Regions from separate parts of the Homo sapiens genome. Here all the other regions are linked to region 4. The links come from fine-mapping of genetic effects on plasma protein levels. Region 4 holds a variant in brackets. A gene starts in each other region. All regions are shown on their reverse strands. Distances are between the middles of the regions.

Region 1 (2,746 bases), not on the chromosome of region 4:
CTGACGTTTTTTCATCTCAAAGCTCCCAGGAATTAAGAAGGAAAATTCAAAGTCACATAGTATGGCGAGCTCCCCCTCTCTGCCCCCCAACACAGCCCTACCCCAGGCTACTGACAGAGGCCCTGAGAGGGGGAAGAGCCTACTTCAGCACCCAGGCCTCCAGCCGGGGCTCTGGGGTCGATTCCACGCCCAAGCAGGGGGCCCTCCCTCTCCCCACCCACAGCCTTCCCGGGCCTGCCTGCCCTCTGCCCGGCAGGGTACCCCTGGCCTGGCTCCCCTTTCGAGCTACAGAGGCCAGTGCAAAAGCCACCCCCCCCACCCCCACCCCCTTTTGCAGCCGAACATTGCAAATCCGGATTCCTTCACAATTCAGATGGGGGGTGGGGGGTTGTGAGGATGTAGGGGAGGCGGAGGCCCTCCCCGAACAGAGATAGGAAAAGAAGGCCTCTCCTCCCCAGGATCAGAAAAATGGGGAGCCCTCTTCTCTCTACCCAGGCCTCTGGTCTTTGTTTGTGCTGGGGGGCCCCGGAAGCATCATTTGCCCAGGGCCCCCATCCCCCAAATCGGACCCCATCCCCGCCCCCAGTCGGGCCGCTGCTGTGTCAGCTGGACTGGGATAACAAAAGGCACCCCCTCCCGCGTCTCCCTTCCCCATCCGTATGCAGGAGTGGGGGCTGGGGAGAGGGTGCCCCCAGGGGTCCAAGGGGGACGCGGAATCTCACTCACCGTCGATAGCCGCCGCGACCAGAGCTGAGAGCAGGGGCAGCAGCAGGAGCAACGGCGGGGTCAGCATGGTGTGGGCTGATGCAAGCAGCAGCCCCTTCCCCTCTGGTCCTGCTACTTCTCTCCTTCACCCCCCCCAGTTGGGGGGTCCCCCTTTTCCTCCTTTCCCCCTCCTCCTTCTCTGTTCTTATTCTTTCCTTCGGCAAAGCGCACCAGGGGCGTGGGTGAAGAGGTAGAGTTCCGAGCCCCTTGGGGAGGGCCTGCTGACGGGGGTGCGCCCCCTGCCCCGAAATCCAAACCCTTCACCCCACCCCCCCGCTTCACTCCTCGCTGCTCTTTCCCCCTCCCCGGGCGAAGCTCACAGCCCCATCTCGGAGCCGCCTCCGGCTGCAAAAATGCACAATTGGGAGGAGGCGGGGAGGGGGGGTGGGGGGCGTGGACCGGGTAGGGGAGCCTTTGGAGGGGGCTTGATGGAGCTCTGGGGGCTCCCCTTGTTTCCGCCTCCTCAGTGCATGGGCCTGGAGCTCGCACCGCTGTTCCCCGGACTGAAGTGCCGAGGGGGGGGCTGATGGGGGAGAGGGAGGGGACGGGTTGAGGAGGGAGGGAGGGAAGGGGCGGGGAAAGAAAAAAGGTTGGTGGGTGGGGGGAGAAAGAGCTACGCGGCAATCCAGTGAGTGCGCATGCGCCGATTTGACGCGCTGCCCGGGGGAGGGCGACGCGGACCCGCGACAGGGTTCGGAGTTCTGGAAAGCGGTCCAAGAGTGAGGGTCCCGGGGACTCGCTGGCTAGTTTGGGGCCTGGGGCGCCCTCTCCCCTGGCTGGGCCCTCCTCCCTGGTGCTCCAGAGAGCAGAAGGGGTCGAGGGTGGGATTGGGCAGTGGGCGGAGAGCTGAGCGGCTCCCCTTTGAAACTCAGTGTCATACTCTAGGATTTCAGGCTCCCTCCGGGGGCGTCCGGGACTCAGTGGTCTGGGCCGAGGCTCGATTTTCTAGGGGAACCCTGAAGGTGCCTCCTCTGCCCGGGGTGGGGACAGGGACCGCCAGTCCGCGGGGAAGGTGCAGGGAAAGGCTGAGCTTTGATTTGGAGACTTTGGAAGACCGGACTGGGATTGGGGCCTGCGAAGGAGGGGGCGGGGTTGGGGAGGGACCGCGAGGACCCGCCCCCACCTCGCTCCCGGGCTCGGAGTAAACAGGGACACCCGAGGGGACACGCCGGAGCTTGTCCGCCCGCGTGGGGCTCGGGGATGGAGCCCACCTTAGTACCCGCCCGCCCTGCTCGCCCAGCCCTAGGCGCGGGAGGGGCAGGCCCTGGTTTGGAGGGAGGTGAGTCACCAGCGGGTGGGGTTGAGGAAAGGCCACCCCCTTTCGCCCAAGAAGTCGGGGCTCATTTATTTTTCTGTTTTTTTTTTTTTTTTTTTTTTTAATACCTTCTGACTGGCTTGCCATCAAGTTAGGGTTTTAGATTCCGAGCGCCAGGATTTGGAATAAGATGAGGGACTCTGGACCTTCGTTTCCAGGCCTCGGGTTCCAAGGAGGTGTCTGCTGAGCGCCGGACCTTTGTCCCCAGGCTCAGCCCACACGGGAATGATACTTTGCAGAAGGCAGGCGCCAGGCGGTTCCCAGGGGCCAGTGAACGTGCTTTTGGTCACTGCCCCCTTCTGGGCGGCGTTTTATGGCTGTTACCTTAGTGTCTGACTTTCTAGGTGTCTGCATGTCAGAGTTCAAGGAGCGGGGCAGACGACGTCGGCTGCCAAAAATTGACGCTGGAGAGGAGGGACTGTTCCCCCTTTTACGTTCTAGTTACGGAAAAGTCCCCACTCCAGTCTGTCCTTGGCAGAAACAGGAGCAGCACGAAGGACTTGCCTCCTAATGACAGTGAGCTCAACCTTTAGCTTCTTCCAGCCGGCTTTGCTCAGCGCGGTGGCCACCTGCCTTTAGTCTCCTGGGCTAGAAACCTCAGACTTTATGCCAACTCAAGGGGGCCTTTCCTTCCTATATCCAATCTTGCCAGCCTGTGCTCCAGGC
Region 2 (2,746 bases), not on the chromosome of region 4:
CCCGGGATCAATACTTTGCATCCTGCAATCCAATCAAGTTGACAGTAAGTATTAACCATCACACCAAGCTTTTGCTGGAGCCTCTTGATGACAATTTTGATTGAGTCAGAAGGATGAATTTCGCAGAGATGTTGGTTATATTAACAACTCATTGCACAGATGGAGGACCTGAGGTCCACATCCAGCTACAAATTTCTGCCTGCCTCCTGCCTCCAGGCTGATCTGGGGACGTGTTGGCCTCTCAGCATTATTGCCCATGCCCTAGTCTGGTAGAAGAGTGGTTTAAAAGTGTGACTGTTTTATTCTTCATAAGAATCAGGCTGCCTTGGTTGAAATTGTGGCCCCATCACTTTGCAACTTTGTGGCCTCTGGCAAGCTATGGCACTTCACTGACCCATATATGTGATGGAGATAATGATACGGTTATTACAGGAGCACACTTGATGATAGGTGTAAAGCACTCAGTACAATGCCTGTTTGTAGGAAGCATCTAATAAATTCTAGTTGCCAGTATAACTAAGCACTTGCCCTATTTTTCAAATGCTATTTTAGCCAGATCAAATAGGTAGGAAAAAGCCTGTCAATCATGAAGTTTATACTTTCCTGTTTCTAAAAAGGTACACTTCTAAAAATTTATATAATTCATTTATAGCTATTAACTTAAACTTGGAAAGTTTGGATATTTGGTCTGTCTTCACAAGTGTTTATCTGAGCCCTACCTCTCAAATTAACATGTATCACCATTGATGTGCATTATGTTGATTCTTATACCTATTATATGCATGTGTGAAACTAAGCCCCATAAAAACAGAATTTAGGCATTCCTGCTGAAAGGAAGTGAATTGAAGGGAAGAGAAGCAGAGCCTTTGCAAAGAGAAAATTGTCCTATCTCTCAACCAGTGTCAGAATGTGGAAATGTTTACAAAATGCTCATTAAAAGAAATAGGGATTGCAAGATAGAAACAAATTCTGGTGCACAAGTTTACACTAGGGAGATAAGAAAGGCTAGGCCCCTATAGGGGATTTTGTTATCCAATTACTGCAACCTGACTTTTAGGGGGAGAGGAAGAGTGGTAGGGGGAGGGAGAGAGAGAGGAAGAGTTTCCAAACTTGTCTCCAGTGACAGGAGACATTTACGTTCCACAAGATAAAACTGCCACTTAGAGCCCAGGGAAGCTAAACCTTCCTGGCTTGGCCTAGGAGCTCGAGCGGAGTCATGGGCTCTCTGGTCCTGACACTGTGCGCTCTTTTCTGCCTGGCAGCTTACTTGGTTTCTGGCAGCCCCATCATGAACCTAGAGCAGTCTCCTCTGGAAGAAGATATGTCCCTCTTTGGTGATGTTTTCTCAGAGCAAGACGGTGTCGACTTTAACACACTGCTCCAGAGCATGAAGGATGAGTTTCTTAAGACACTAAACCTCTCTGACATCCCCACGCAGGATTCAGCCAAGGTGGACCCACCAGAGTACATGTTGGAACTCTACAACAAATTTGCAACAGATCGGACCTCCATGCCCTCTGCCAACATCATTAGGAGTTTCAAGAATGAAGGTAAGTTTTTGCTGATGAAATTTTGCTAGGATTTTTTTCAAGACACAATAAGTAAATTTACAATGCATGGGAATGATATAGGTAAGGGTAAATACATCTATATAAGGATGTTAAATACATATGGATACACAAAAACAAGGCACATTTTGTTCTATACCAATTATATAGTCATTTCAGGAACCTCGAAAAATACTTACAAACATCTTTTAATCCAAAGCCACAAAACATCTATCAATTTGACATCATAATTGGGTCCTTTTAAAAAATGTTAATTTGAACACCAAGTAATACAAAGAATTAATGTTGGTCTACTGCCGTACCTTTGTCATTTTCCAAATAGGCCTTGATTGCCATATGGGCTTTTAATTAACTAAAAAATTTCTCAACTTCTACTTAGAATAAAAAGGGTAAAAACAGTCAAAAAACATCAAATTGTGATTTGTGTTTTGTTCAAACTTTTGATAAGTTTTTATTTTGTGACCTTATTTAAGAAATGTTCAAACAGGATGGAAATATATTTTAAAGATTCTTCCTAAGGCTGTGTTGTTTGATGTGTCATGTACATCCTTAAAGCACTGTTTACAGTTTCCAGGAAGTGTAGATGGCCCATTAATCATCCAGCTCATCATTTCCGTCTTTATAAAGAGCAACGTACAAGCTTTGAATTATTGGTGGGAAAAGTGTGTTTTCTTCTCTTAGGTCTTTAAATTTGGTAACTAAATCTAATGAGCTAGCAAGTTAATGTTTTTGTTTGTTTGTTTGTTTGTTTGTTTTTTGGTTAATATGGTCCTAGTAGGAAAAAAAACCCCTGATATCTAGATATCTATAGTAGAAGCTGAAGGTCCAAAGGAACTAATTTAATTTTTGCCAGTTATGCTTTTATAGTCACTAACCAGGTATAAAAGAAGCTTCCCGTTAATATTGGCCAGATGTTCTTGAAAGAAGAAAGGTAATAGTGAAGAAATAGCTCAGGATTTGGGATTTTGAGAGCTAGTTGGCTTAGTGGTTGTGAATAATTAGCTGATGCCTCAGAGCCTCAATTTCCTCATCTATAAAGTGGGAGTAATAATACCTACATAACATAGTTGAGTGACTCAAAGGAGGTTACAGATAAGAAAGCACTCCATTTACTATGAAGTGCTGATCAAACTTTAGTGACTACTAATGAGTTACTTAATATTCTAGGTACTGGAATA
Region 3 (2,746 bases), 22 Mb after region 4:
GGTTTTGAAGTGCCAGTCCTGCCTCTGCAGACCAGTTAGGTCTGGCCTGGGCGTGGTATGGAGCCAGGCCCCTTAGCCATTTGCAAGTCTCAGACCCAGGAAGGGAGAGGCTCTGTGCTCCTGGACATTCAGAGGGAGACAGCAGCAGCAGGAAAAGCCAGCTCTGCAGGCAGACAGGTTTAACACTTCCTAGGTGTGCAGGCTTAACACTTCCTAGGTGACATGGGTGGGTACCCTTGGTGGCTGCAAGCTTTGACTGAACAGTTTTGCTCTTCAGAAACTTATTTCCCCTGCATCATGTGAGCTTGTCTGAGTTAGGACATAGGTCCTAGGTCCGTGTTTGTTATCTTCTAGTCCTTCTAAATCAGATATATTTCTATTTAAAAACAATTAGGTTCTCTGCCAACACTTCTCTGTCCAAGAATTTTATCTGATTTTTAAAACCGTTTCATAAGAAAGGAATAGATGTGCTTTGAAAATTTAAAAATATCCCAGTTAGTTGGAGGTGAAATAGGTTGCCTGTTCTGTTCTGAAGTAGGAAGGGGACAGGAAGGGAAGGGGGAAAGGAAGAGAAGTGAATCAGAGGGGAGTGATGCAAAGAAGAGGAGAGTAAAGAGAAGGGGTGGAAAAAAGAGAGCTGGCATCCCTGTGCACCTGCTGTGTGAAATGTGGCACACAGCTTGGGGAAGGTGAATCCTTCACAACAGAAGTGCTGAGTAGAACTCTCAGTAACCATGGAAATGTTCTTCAGTCTGCACTGCCTGATAGGGAAGCCATTAGCCACGCATTTGAAAGGAAGCTGGTGAGGCTAAAGAAATAAGTTTTAATTTTATTTCATTGTAACTAATTTAAATGGAAGCTTGAAGAGCCTCCTATGGCCAGTGGCCTCCACCCTGGGGAAAGCAGCTGTGGACCTGTGAGTCCCACCCCAGCGCGCATGGTGCAAGCGGAGACCCTACCTTCCATGCTGAAGCTCCGCACAATGTTGGACGCTGGCGTAGTCGACTTATCGGACGTGTACCTGTTGTACAGGTCAATCATGTACTGCGGCGGCTCCACCCTGGTTTTGTCCTGCGAAGGGACCCCACTCAGGTTAAGGCTGCGCAGGAAATCCACCTTCACGTTCTCCAGAAACATCTTCAGGTTGAAGGTGTGCTCAGGCAGCCCACCTCCAGGCACCCCCAGTGGGCTGTGGGCGTTTCCCCCAGCAGACCCTCGTCCCCAGCTCTGCAGTGGCTTCCCCTGTAGGGAGCCAGCCAGCAGGGACAGCAGGGGCAGGGCCACCCACAGTGCCCCAGGACACATCTTAGGCCCGCGCAATCACCCAGAGAGGAGACTGCAGGCGGCCGTGCTGTGTTAGCGGGCACGGGGAGGAGCTGGGAAGGAGCGGGCCGGCATCTCCCTGCTGTTTGCTCTGAAGGAACCGTCCTGGCCAGCACCCACTCTCACCCGCTGCCGGGCTGGATTGTCCTCCACTTGTGCTTATCTGGTCCTCGATGCCGCGCTCCGACGTCTTATCTGAGGGAGCCTTCCGTTAATGAAGGCTCTATAAACATCTGACAAACACACAGGGCATGCGGGAAGGACACGGCCTACTGTAAAGAATCTGTGCTTCTCCAGGGGGTTATTGCCCCCTAATTAGGATACTTTCTCATTTCCTTGCCAGGGCTCTTCAGAAGAATCTCCAGGCAGGGTGACATATGCTCCATCTCCTGGGCCACAGGAGTGAAGAATCCAGGAAACAAGACCAAGTAGTCCTCCAAATATAGAAAGGACAGCACAAGATCACAGTGAACCGTGGGGGCTGGGGAGATGGGGAGAGTGTGGGGACCACATCAGGGCTCAGAAGAGGCCTGCTCCTTGCAGAATCGGAACCTGCCAGCAAGCCTCCCTGCTCTGTTGGTGGGATGCACTGCTGAGCATTAGAGATCACGAGTGAATATGGCTCCCGTGCAATTTAGTGCGGTGATGAGTCAAACTAGACACAGGCTGGGATCTCAACTCCCTCACCGATTCCCTGCAAATGTCACCTGGAACAAGTCACTGCAGCTCTTGGAGCCTCCCATTCAGAAGATAGTTATAGGGGTTAAGAGGATGCTGTGCCCCAGGCTGGCTTGGTGGCTGCATTCTGGATGCCCCCTCTCCAGCCCAGGCCTGATTGAGCTGGAGCTGGGGGAGGAAGCCCTGGGTTCCCCCAGCCTGCTCTGTCGGAGCTCCACAACACACTGCAGCCTGTGGGGAGCTCCCCACATCCCTGCATCCCAGCTGTGTCACTGGTCTGTTGTGGGGTGGTCTTAGCTCACACCAACCTGGCAGCCACCTGGCCCACACTCATCAGCAGGGAGAACCACGCAATCTGGTAGACAGGGGAGTAGGTGGGTTGTTCTGAGAGTGGTACATGCCAAGAAGATGATCCCCTGGCCTTTGGAGGCTGATAAGCTGTGGCCCAGGAAAGGGCCCCAGGGACTGCGTTAAGAGCAGTATGTCCACACTTAGACTCTGTCCATTTCCATCACGTGTGGCTTTGAGCAAAGCAAAGAAGGATCATGGTTAGAAACACTCTGGGGTATGCTGTGCCTGGTGGTTTACTCTGGGGAAGGTATTCTATGCTGGTGAGGCTGTCCGGGAGAGGCTGCAGAGAGCTGAGCAGGTTTAGGGGGGTGCAGGAGGGGCCACAGCATGCTGCGGTCAGAGATTGCAGAGGGGGATGGGTGAAATCAGGAGCCCCTGAATGGCTGGGCCTGAA
Region 4 (2,500 bases):
TCATTCTTTTTATGACCCAATAATATTCCTTTGTATGCTTATACCACATTTTGCTTATCCATTCAGTTAATTATTGGATTTTTATATATAGTGTGTTCTGTTTACACAAATAAAACAATGTTCAATCATTTTCAATACCTGTTGATGAAAAGTCCTCAATGCTCCTCTCTACCATCCACAAAAAAAATTTCAAAAACATAGGTGAATCATGTATACTCGCACATGTCATATGCCAGTATATACAGTACACTTTTACCATGTACTGCAGAGTAAGAGCCAAACTACCAAAGCAAGAGCTCGAAGCAAAACACTCTGGACAGCTTGAAGAAAAACACTCCCACATCTGTGCCAAGAGGTTGTGAAATTACAGACACTTTAAAATTAGAGAAAAGGCCGGGTACAGTGGCTCATGCTTGTAATCCCAACACTTTGGGAGGCCAAGGTGGGTGGATCACCTGAGGTCAGGAGTTTGAGACCAGCCTGGCCAAGATGATGAAAGCCCGTCTCTACTAATAATACAAAAAATTAGGCCAGGCGCAGTGGCTCACGCCTGTAATCCCAGCATTTTGGGAGGTCAAGGCGGGCGGATCACTAGGTCAGGAGATCGAGACCATCCTGGCTAATAAGGTGAAACCCCGTCTCTACTAAAAATACAAAAAAATTAGCCGGGCGTGGTGGCGGGTGCCTGTAGTCCCAGCTACTCGGGAGGCTGAGGCGGGAGAATGGCGTGAACCCAGGAGGTGGAGCTTGCAGTGAGCCGAGATTGCGCCACTGCACTCCAGCCTGAGCGACAGACTGAGACTCCGTCTCAAAAAAAAAAAAAAAAATTAGCTGGGCATGGTGGCAGGCGCCTGAAATCCCAGCTGCTCCAGAGGCTGAAGCAGGAGAATCGCTTGAACCCAGGAGGCGGAGGTTGCAGTGAGCTAAGATTGCGCCATTGCACTCCAGCCTGGGCAAGAAAAGTGAAACTCCGTCTCAAATAAATAAGTAATTAATTAATTAATTAGAGAAAAGTCCACTTACGGAAAAAGGTCAGTCCTCAGACGG[G/C]GGATCTTGTTGGATTCACCTGGAAGTAGTTCGAACATTGGTCCTTTTTCTTCAAGGCAGTTTGCAGAATTACTGTCTGGATTGCAGCGCACCCATTGGTACCTGGCTCTCCGCGTAGGATAACCTGCCCGAGGAACCCACATTGTTACTAAGTATCTACTACACAGCTTCTAATCACTCTGTCCTAAGAAGTTTTTATTTTTATTTTTTTTTCGAGACAGGGTCTCAGTCGGCTGCCCAAGCTGGAGTGCAGTACTGTGATCATAGCTCACTGCAACCTTGAACTCCTGGGCTCAAGCCATTCTCCCACCCCAGCCTCTTGAGTAGCTGGGAATACAGGGGCACCACAACGCCCAGCTAGTTTTGTTTTGTTTTTGTTTGTTTGTTTGTTTTTTGGAGAGATGGGGGTCTCACTATGTGCCCAGGCTGGTCTCAAACACCTGGGCTCAAGCAGTCCTCCTGCCTTGGCCTCCCAGTGTGCTGAGATTACAGGAATGAGCAACTGCACCCCACCCGCCCTAAGAAGGTTTTAACTAAATAGATTCTAAATTTGGTAAAAGGCAAAATGTAGACAGATTTTGTGCCCATTCATATAACAGCAGCACCCACTATGTGCCAACATTTTATATAAATTGTCCTTCTTACAACACTCCAAAAAGTAGCAGTTTAAAGTTAGAATAGGCTTTGGAATCAGCTGCCTGGAGTGAAGTCCCAGGTCTGCTGACTAGTTATGGAACCTTAACTTCTCTGAACCCTCACTGTAATATGAAGATACTAATAGTGTCATAAGCCTATCACAAAAATTAAATGAGAAAATACACTTAGAGAATTTAACACAGTGCCAGGCACACAGTAAGCACTTGATAATATTAACTGTTGTTACTTTTGTACTATTATCTCAATTTTACACAAAAGAAAATTGCAGCCACACAGGCGCTAGGATTCCAACCCACATCTGACCCCAAAGCCCACATCTTTTCATAGAGATGAGTCAAATCAGGTTCAGAAAGGGGAAGGAACACACTGTGGAGTACCCGTGGTATCACAGAATTCTAGTTCTTGTGTTTTAGGGCCATACAGTATCCTTAGGAATGAAAAGTAGATAACAATTTGTCCTGTGTCTTTGCACTCAGATTTCACAAGAACAAGTCTCCTCTATTCACAGAGCACCAGGCAGCTTGGAATATCTGAGTCTCAGCTTCTTCTGAATTTCATTTCTATGGAAAAGGCTCCAAATCTGATATTATGAGGTTATATAGGAGATTTATTTATGTATTTATTTTATTTTATTTTATTGAGAGAGAGTCTTGCTGTGTCGCCCAGGCTGGAGTGCACTGTCACGATCTCGGCTCATGGCAACCTCCACCTCCCGGGTTCAAGCAATTTTTCTGCCTCACCCTCTGGAGTAACTGGGATTACAGGCACTCACCACCACGCCCAGCTAATTTTTAGT

Which allele goes with the higher level. Positions count from the first base shown, and alleles are read on the strand shown. Strength reflects both the effect of a copy and how common the allele is.
With allele C in place of G in region 4, the plasma level of the protein whose gene starts at base 1,275 in region 1 is higher (moderate association).
In carriers of allele C in region 4, the plasma level of the protein whose gene starts at base 1,178 in region 2 tends to be higher than with G alone (weak association).
For the plasma level of the protein whose gene starts at base 1,520 in region 3, C is the high allele of the variant in region 4 and G is the other (weak association).

The links. PIP is the chance, under the fine-mapping model, that this variant and not a neighbour inherited with it causes the effect. Protein levels are from antibody-based Olink assays in UK Biobank. Linkage for the fine-mapping came from a reference panel and not from the study's own genotypes, which makes the PIPs less certain.
Region 1: LRP1 starts here. The variant in region 4 is fine-mapped to the plasma level of the LRP1 protein (UK Biobank, PIP above 0.99).
Region 2: BMP10 starts here. The variant in region 4 is fine-mapped to the plasma level of the BMP10 protein (UK Biobank, PIP 0.99).
Region 3: GDF2 starts here. The variant in region 4 is fine-mapped to the plasma level of the GDF2 protein (UK Biobank, PIP above 0.99).

What each region holds. Positions count from the first base shown.
Region 1 is chr12:57,127,012-57,129,757 of GRCh38, reverse strand. It overlaps LRP1 (LDL receptor related protein 1), which reads right to left and starts at 1,275. Exons shown (of 89, transcript NM_002332.3): 1 at 727-1,275. The coding sequence starts at 793. RefSeq lists an enhancer at 1,615-2,268.
Region 2 is chr2:68,869,829-68,872,574 of GRCh38, reverse strand. BMP10 (bone morphogenetic protein 10) reads left to right here and starts at 1,178. Exons shown (of 2, transcript NM_014482.3): 1 at 1,178-1,550. The coding sequence starts at 1,217. RefSeq lists a silencer at 1,202-1,362.
Region 3 is chr10:47,321,228-47,323,973 of GRCh38, reverse strand. It overlaps GDF2 (growth differentiation factor 2), which reads right to left and starts at 1,520. Exons shown (of 2, transcript NM_016204.4): 1 at 960-1,520. The coding sequence starts at 1,305.
Region 4 is chr10:69,095,755-69,098,254 of GRCh38, reverse strand. SRGN (serglycin) reads right to left here. Exons shown (of 3, transcript NM_002727.4): 2 at 1,024-1,171. Among named protein-coding and RNA genes, the nearest start is that of SRGN, 8.9 kb to the right of the region's middle. The variant G/C (reference allele first, on the strand shown) is at 1,048.